2 linked regions of the Homo sapiens genome follow. The protein of the gene in region 1 purifies or fractionates together with the protein of each later gene. This does not show direct contact. Each region holds a gene or a part of one and is shown on either strand. Other genes may lie near its edges.

Region 1 (3,733 bases):
ATGCATATAAGCACTAGAAAAAGAAGTTTGTAGCTTTGAGTTGGTCTGGTAAGCTACTCTGACCTTCTCCCCATAGCCAGTTGGAGAAAGAACCTCCGTTCTTTCCCAGTCTGTCTGCATCTCCTTAACGTACATCAAGAACAAACAGCCGGGTCCTGTTCTGTCCCAGAACTGGTGGGAGAGGGAGTGCCTCTCCGAAGCCCTCTCGCGATCCCCACCTCCTCCCCACCCCACCTGGGCTGCTCCCGATGTTGTGACTGGGTTCAGGGAGCCATGGGGTGGTGGAGGCTGGTGTAGGAGGGTGGCCCCTGTCCCAGGTGCGGCCAGGGTCCTAGTCACCGAGCACAAATAACAAAATAATAAATTTAAAAATAAATGGAAAAAGAGAAAATAAGTGTGTGCACGAACAGAACAAATGGAAAGGCCCAGATGCCTCAGGGTGACAGAGAGAAGGGGCCCCACGTCACCCTCTGTGACCCCTTTCAACAGTCCAAGCTCTCTAATTCATGAATTCTACAGCATTCATTTATAAAGTACATAAATTTATTATGATCCTGTGCTTTGCTCCTGGATAGAAGAGAACTTGAGATGATGGAAAATCTCACAGAAGGGTGAAGGGTTCCCCAGCCAGCCTTGGGGTGGTGCCGGGTTGATGTTGGCCATAGGGGTCATCAGGAGGGTTCAGAGTCCCTGGGCCCCCATCAGCACACGCATCTCATGCTGTCCAGAATTCTAGAAGGGGACCTGTGGGCCTCCTCAGGGCAGCTGCAGGGTGGGCCTCAGACAGGTCACAGAATGAAGTGGGCAGTTGAGTGTGTGTTTCTCTGGCCCCCAAACAGCCACTCAGCATCCCAGATCTCAGGTAACACCAGCCTCTTTCTCCAGGCCCACCCAGGAAGGAGAATCCAGGAGTCATCGTTCCCCTGATGTTCCATTAGCTGACACTGGAGATAGTGACAGAGAGAGACACTGAGCGGGACAGAGATGGCCAGAGATGGGGGCGAGACTGAACATGGGCAGAAATGAGGACAGGAGAGCCAGGAGGAGAGGACAGCGGGGTAGAGAGAGTGAGATTCTGAGAGGGAAATAAAAATGGATGGAGACACAGGTGTAGGGAAAGGGAGAGGTGGATTGAATAGAAGCAGGGGGCAGAGACAGGGAGACAAGGAGAATGGGGGCTCCACCCAGGGCAGAACAGGCATGCAGCTACCCTGCACCCACAATCCCACGGAGGGGACAGGACTCACCTGCGACAAAGCCTGTCATCCGAGGTCCGGGCTGAGTCGCAGTTCTGGTTTATCAGCTTCACCATGAAGGTCCAGGGGCAGCACTGCTCAAAGCAGACTCTGAAGGTGCAGTTTCCACACGTCTGGGTCCTGGCCAAGGGCACGACGGCATCATCATAGCAACAGTGCTGCAGGGGGTCGTAGAACTTGTCCCCACATCTCTTGTGTGGCTGGCACAGCATCAGGTAAGGAGTCATGGGGGCCACTGGAGGAGACAGAGCTGGTGAGATCCAGGAGGTAGTGGCAGGTGGGTCCCAGCCTGGGGTCCCCTGGAAGGTGTACCCCTCCTCCAGCTTCCCAAACACTCCTGGGCTCACCTGGGGCTCCGTGTGAGCAGAGGAGCCTGGAGATGCAGAAAATGGCAAAGACAGCTGTGGGAAAGGGAAAGGGAAGATGGGGTGAGTGGACAGCCACAGATATGACTGGCACTGACATTTAGAAGAAGACTGGGTGGAACCAGGGCTCGGTATGGCTTTGAGCAGCTCAGGGACTGAAACAGGGCTGTGGATGGGGCTGATCTGGGCACTATGGATGGGGAATTGCTGTGAGCAATTCACGCCTGGAGATTTGGCTGGGCATGGGAACAGGGATGAGGTGTAGTTTGGGGTAGGGAGAGAGCCCTGGTGGTGGCTGAGATTGGAGATGGGCTCAGGTGGGAATGGGGTCCTGTCCTCCTTACCTACGATGCAGCCTCGGGGAGCCATGGCTCTGGGTGGTTGCAGTGGAGTGAGGAGGGGATCAGCAGATCTCAGCCACTCCTTTTATCCCATATTTCTAGTGGAGCTGGTGATGTCATGGCATTTCCTGCCCTCCTGCAAGTCCTGCAGAGACAGGCTGGGTCCTTGGGCAGGAGAGGTGCCAGGCAGGGTACGTGTCATTGTAGCTTTGATCTCACCTTTGTAATCAGGAGAGAAGCGGTACACCCTCCACCTTCTCTGTGCTATGTGCCCCAATCGTCCCCCACACTGAGTCCTCTGGAAAATAGGAAGGTTCAGGATGCTCCTGGCATTAACACTCTCCGACACTCACATGTCCACACAGCGATTCCACAGGATCCTACTGAGCTATGACTTTCCTCAGTTTCCTTGGGACATTGCTAACCCATGACATCATTTCAAAGGGTCCCATTAGGTCCCAACCTCACAACCGAAACACATGGTCAAGAATCCAGTAACTTCTCAGTCACCTGCAGCTCATGGCATTCAGGTGGGAGAGACTGTGTGACTCAGGCACCTGACTTTCACAGGTTTGGAAGGTGGGAGTGGAGCTGGCGGGACCCCTGGGACTCAACACTCCTCTGGGGGCTCTTCATCTCCTTCTCTGTCTCATTAATGGTCATTTACCCAGGACAGGTCCACTTGGGAGCCTACATGTCCCAGGCTTCGTGTCAGACACCAGTGATGCAGTGCTGAGTAGAAAACGCAAAGTCAGTGTCTTCGTGACGTTCATGACAGTGAGAGGAGAGAGAGAGAGAGAGAAGGTAGGAGAATAAAACTCCTGATTTTGGTTATTGTCGTTCTTGTGTTTGGTGTCATTATCACTGTGAAGTTCTGGTGGAGAAATTCCACATCCCCCCCTGAGATTCTCAAAGGTGTTTTTCCTTAATGTGCTTTTTCAGAGGGTTGGGTTGTGATTTTCCCTGAGAAGAGCCATCTTGGGGTCAGGATGTGAGGACAGAGGGGAAGGAGCTGTTTTGGGTCAGTTCTGTGCCCCCCTACCCCTGCCCAGCTTCTGCAGGAATTCCTCCGCTCAAGCTCACAGGCCACACATGGCATGGACAAGCCGTTCTCCTCCGGGCCAGGCAAGGTGACCTGTCACCCTCTAGGCACCATGGCTGGCTCCTAGCAGGGCATGGATGTGGTTAGATTTGTGTGTGTGGAAGATCCTGCATCTGTGTTCCTGGGGAGCACGGATAGGGGCTTCTCTCTGGAGGCAGGAGACACAGGAAGAGGCTGCAGAGAAATGACTTCAATAAATACCAGAGTGCTCAGCACCCACCTTCTCCCTCGACAGAGCAGACCCTGCTTCCAGCACCATCTCCCTGTCTGCTCCCTTGGCCTCTGTTCCTTGCTGCTGTGGGGTACAGCAGTGTTTTCTAGGACACAGATTAGGATGTGCTAGTAGCATGGAAAATCAATTTACTTGGGCATAAACAATGTTATTTTTAAGTGAAGAAATGGGTTAGAAAATGGGACAGTGTGCATTCAACAGAATGCTGTGCTCAACTGTTTATGACACTTTAAAAAAAATTATTTATTTTTTTGAGATGAAGCCTTGTTCAGTTGCCCAGGCTGGAGTGCAGTTGCACGATCTTGGCTCACTGCAACCTCTGCCTGCCAGGTTCAAGTGATTCTCCTGCCTCAGTCTCTGAGTAGCTGGGATTACAGATGCCCGCCAACACACCCGGCTAATTTGTGTATTCTCCATAGAGATGGGGTTTTACCGTA
Region 2 (3,399 bases), on another chromosome or scaffold:
CGCACCAGCCAGGGCCAGGTGAGCACAGAGAGGCGGATCTGGGAGGACACAATGGCACTGGGCCCCTTGGAGTGAGCAGTGGAAGGGACAGAGCCCTCAGAGCCACAGGACGGCTTTGAGCCCAGCTCTATCCTCTATCGGCTGCATGATCCCAAAATAGCTTTAATTGTTGTGTATTCACCTGTAAAATGGGATTAGCTCATTCAGGGAGGATTCAATGAGATGTCTAAAGAACACCTACACAGAGTAGACGCTAAGCAGGTACCACACCTGGAAGGCGGCCGCAGGTCTTCTAGCTAAGCTGGCTCTCCTGGTTGAGAAGACAGGGGTGAGCTGGGGACAAGGAGCCTGGGCAGAGCCTGCCAGGCACCCACAGCCTGAGCCAGGCATTGAAATAGGAAGGATGGACAGCTGGACCACACCCTCCTCTAACCATCCTCAGCGCCCCCAAACCCACCAGAAGCAGGCTGCGGCAAACCAGAGACATCATCCTTCTGCCAGAAGTTGCAAAGCCCTACCCCTTCCCACCTTCAGCCCCAGAACATGAGGAAGACAAACACAGAAGCATCTTTCAGTGCACTTTAATCGAAATTCCATCATCAGAAGAGTTCTCGTAGCATACAATGTCAGGATGGGCATGTCGACTTGGTCCTACAAATGGAATATCCACAGATTTGCACTTCAAACATGTATGAAAAATAAAATATATAATATTTAGCTTTATAAATTTCCCCACTTAGTCACTTTATCTTTAAAATAAATTACTACTCCCGTCCAATACAGTGAGTAGCTTGGAGTCACTCAGACAATCTCTAGCCAAATGATCTCTGTTTTCTTGAGGAGTTCTGTAGGGAAATACTTGATGAAGACAGTCCAGTGCTTACAAGAATCAACATGAATTTAAAACGAGCACACTCTTCACAGTGGGGCGGAACATCAGAAAATGGGAGCCTTCTTCTAATGGCTGTTCTTTTCTGTTGGGAAAAAAAAAAAACAAATCCTCCAAACCACACCGGATGGTTGTAAAAAGCTGCAACGGAACCTTTGGCACCAGATGAGAAGAGAGGCCTTTTAATGCCATAGCTAGTGATGATTCAGTCAAAGCATCAGTCTAAGGAAGGATGATGGGGGAAGGGACCGGAGATCACAGCCCTTCTCCTTTCTGAGCCCCCCTCCCCCCCGATGTCCCCTTTCTGGAGACACAGACAGCCCCTCTGCTTTGGGGAAGGCGGGGCTTTGTCTGGGCAGGCTGGGCGTTCTTCAGACGGGAAGATTCACAATGTATAGAACACAAAGGGAGAGGCCCTTTTGCAGATCGGGGGGTAGCCGCTTGCTGCGAGCTTAGTCACCAGCGGGGATGCACTCAATGCACAAGGGACATGGCCACTCCAGCGGGACGGCTGCACAGCCATGAAAGGGGACAGACAGAAGGGGTGCACGGGACACCAAGGAACTGGAAGGCGGCAGGACTCAGGCTGCGATAGCATTTACAGGGGCTCTGAAGAGGGGCTGCTGGACCTGCCTCCACTTGCAGCAGGAAGGCAGATATCCACCCACTTGGGGCAGGTGTCTTGGGGGCATCTTCCCAGGGGACCCTGGCACTACTTCAAACAGCAACAGAATATTGGTAGGGAACAAACAAGCCAGTGACAGACACTGCCCCAGCCCTGGTCTTAGAGATTCCTGGGGAATGAGCTCTGGGAACCCTGAGCCCAGACTGACAAGAGTTTAAGTGGGGCAGTCTATGGCCCTGAACTTCCATGGCAACAGCCTGATCCCGGCCTCCTGGACAGAGGAGAAGGCGGCTACAAGTCAAGGAGACGCTCCTCACACGTCTCCACGGGCCACTTGGAGGCCCCTCCGAACACATCGACGTTATTGTCCACCCACGGGATGATGTTGCCCGGCATGTTTGTGGAGCAGTTGGCGATGTTGACAATTTCTTGTGCGCGAAGGACGCGGTCCCATATGTTGAACTGGCTGAGCTCCCCGACAAATGCCTGAGTGGCATCAAACCTACCCCCCACGGTGTCCTGGGGAATGGGAACAAGAGAGCTGCGTCAGGGCTGGTTCACAAGTCCCCCTGCACACGGGCTGCAGACAGGAGATTTGGGCATTTCTCTGATGCCCCCCAGCTCTGACCAACACTACCTGTTTCTGTAGGTTCTGAAGCTCCCAGGCATGTCAGAACTGGGAGGTGGCATCGCTCAAATCTCCCCATTTTATACAGGGGAAACTGAGGCTGGTAAGGGAAGACACTGCTCAAAGTCCCAAAGCCAGGATCAGAGCCAGGTCTCATGACTCCCAGCCCCTCCCAGCGGAGATGTAGCAGGGGAAATTGAGGGAGGAGTGGGCCAAGAAGGAACCAGACTCAAAGCCCCCCAGTGCACCTGGAGTCTACGCCCCACTGTCCATCATCAAAAACCCAAATACAGACTGGAATGCCAACACTTATCTGTCCTAGACCAGACAGCCAACTTAGCCATTCCCTCCCCTAGATGGTAAGTTTCTTGAGGGCACTTTGAGGTGCCACCCTTTCATCCCTGTCTCCCCCACAGGCTGAGCACCCACTATGGATTACCTAAGTGCCCCTTGCTGGGTATCAGGGTTAAGACCCTGAGCAGGGGGCTCCTGGAAGACACCAGCCCCACAATCCTGAGTTGGTACCATGAGCATCCCAGGAGGGTCCCTCACACAGCCTCCTCCCAGATGGAAGCTGGAGCCTGTGTCACGAGATGACCCATGACCACAGGGACACTCACACCCCTCTGTGCCAGGTTCTATTTGGAATCTGTTTGAACCACACACCCACCTGGTCCCTGCCATGCAGGCCGTGACCCCACGCCCAACCTCTAACCACAGGACAGCAAGGGCCAGGCTGCGGGGGTTCTCACTCCCCCGACCTGGCTGTCAGGACACTGTGGCCAGGTCTGAGGGGCCAACAGCTGGGGCCGGGAGCAGGAACAGCTGCAGGCCTGGCCTCGTGCTGCTCAGTTGGCCCCTCCTCGCACCATCCCTGAAAGGGCGCACGGCCACCCTGTGCCCATCCTGCACCCACCCTGTGCCCACCTGCACCTGCCCTGCACCCACCTGCTCTTGTCCAAGGATCAGCACGCCCCCGGGCTTGATGGGGTGCCAGGGGGCCAGGTTCTCCCCAGTGCCCAGCTTCTCTCCGTCCTGGAATGCCTCCCACATGCCATCCCGTGTCGTCCAGGTGACACAGATGTGGTGCCACTTGCCGTCACTGACAAACAGGGGCAGCTGCGCAACCTGTGAGCAGCAATGTGCAGGTAAGGACCTGCTGGGCCCACGCCCTCAGGGTCCCCCAGGGCAGGAAGCAGGAAGGACACCCCACAGTCCCCCTGGGCCACACTGCTCCTCCTGTCACCGGGGTCATGC

Evidence for each region.
Region 2: the proteins of IGFL1 (region 1) and NPTX2 purify together in Homo sapiens (affinity purification with mass spectrometry; one large-scale study listed by BioGRID and IntAct). This does not show direct contact.

The regions. Positions count from the first base shown.
Region 1 is NC_000019.10:46,228,032-46,231,764, reverse strand, and holds IGFL1 (insulin growth factor-like family member 1 precursor), read right to left. Parts: upstream 2,024-3,733; 5' UTR 1,991-2,023; coding exon 1,966-1,990; intron 1,658-1,965; coding exon 1,604-1,657; intron 1,492-1,603; coding exon 1,248-1,491; intron 945-1,247; coding exon 935-944; 3' UTR 522-934; downstream 1-521. UniProt on the Homo sapiens protein: Probable ligand of the IGFLR1 cell membrane receptor.
Region 2 is NC_000007.14:98,627,036-98,630,434, reverse strand, and holds the end of NPTX2 (neuronal pentraxin-2 precursor), read right to left. Parts: intron 3,271-3,399; coding exon 3,091-3,270; intron 2,034-3,090; coding exon 1,806-2,033; 3' UTR 566-1,805; downstream 1-565. UniProt on the Homo sapiens protein: Likely to play role in the modification of cellular properties that underlie long-term plasticity. Binds to agar matrix in a calcium-dependent manner.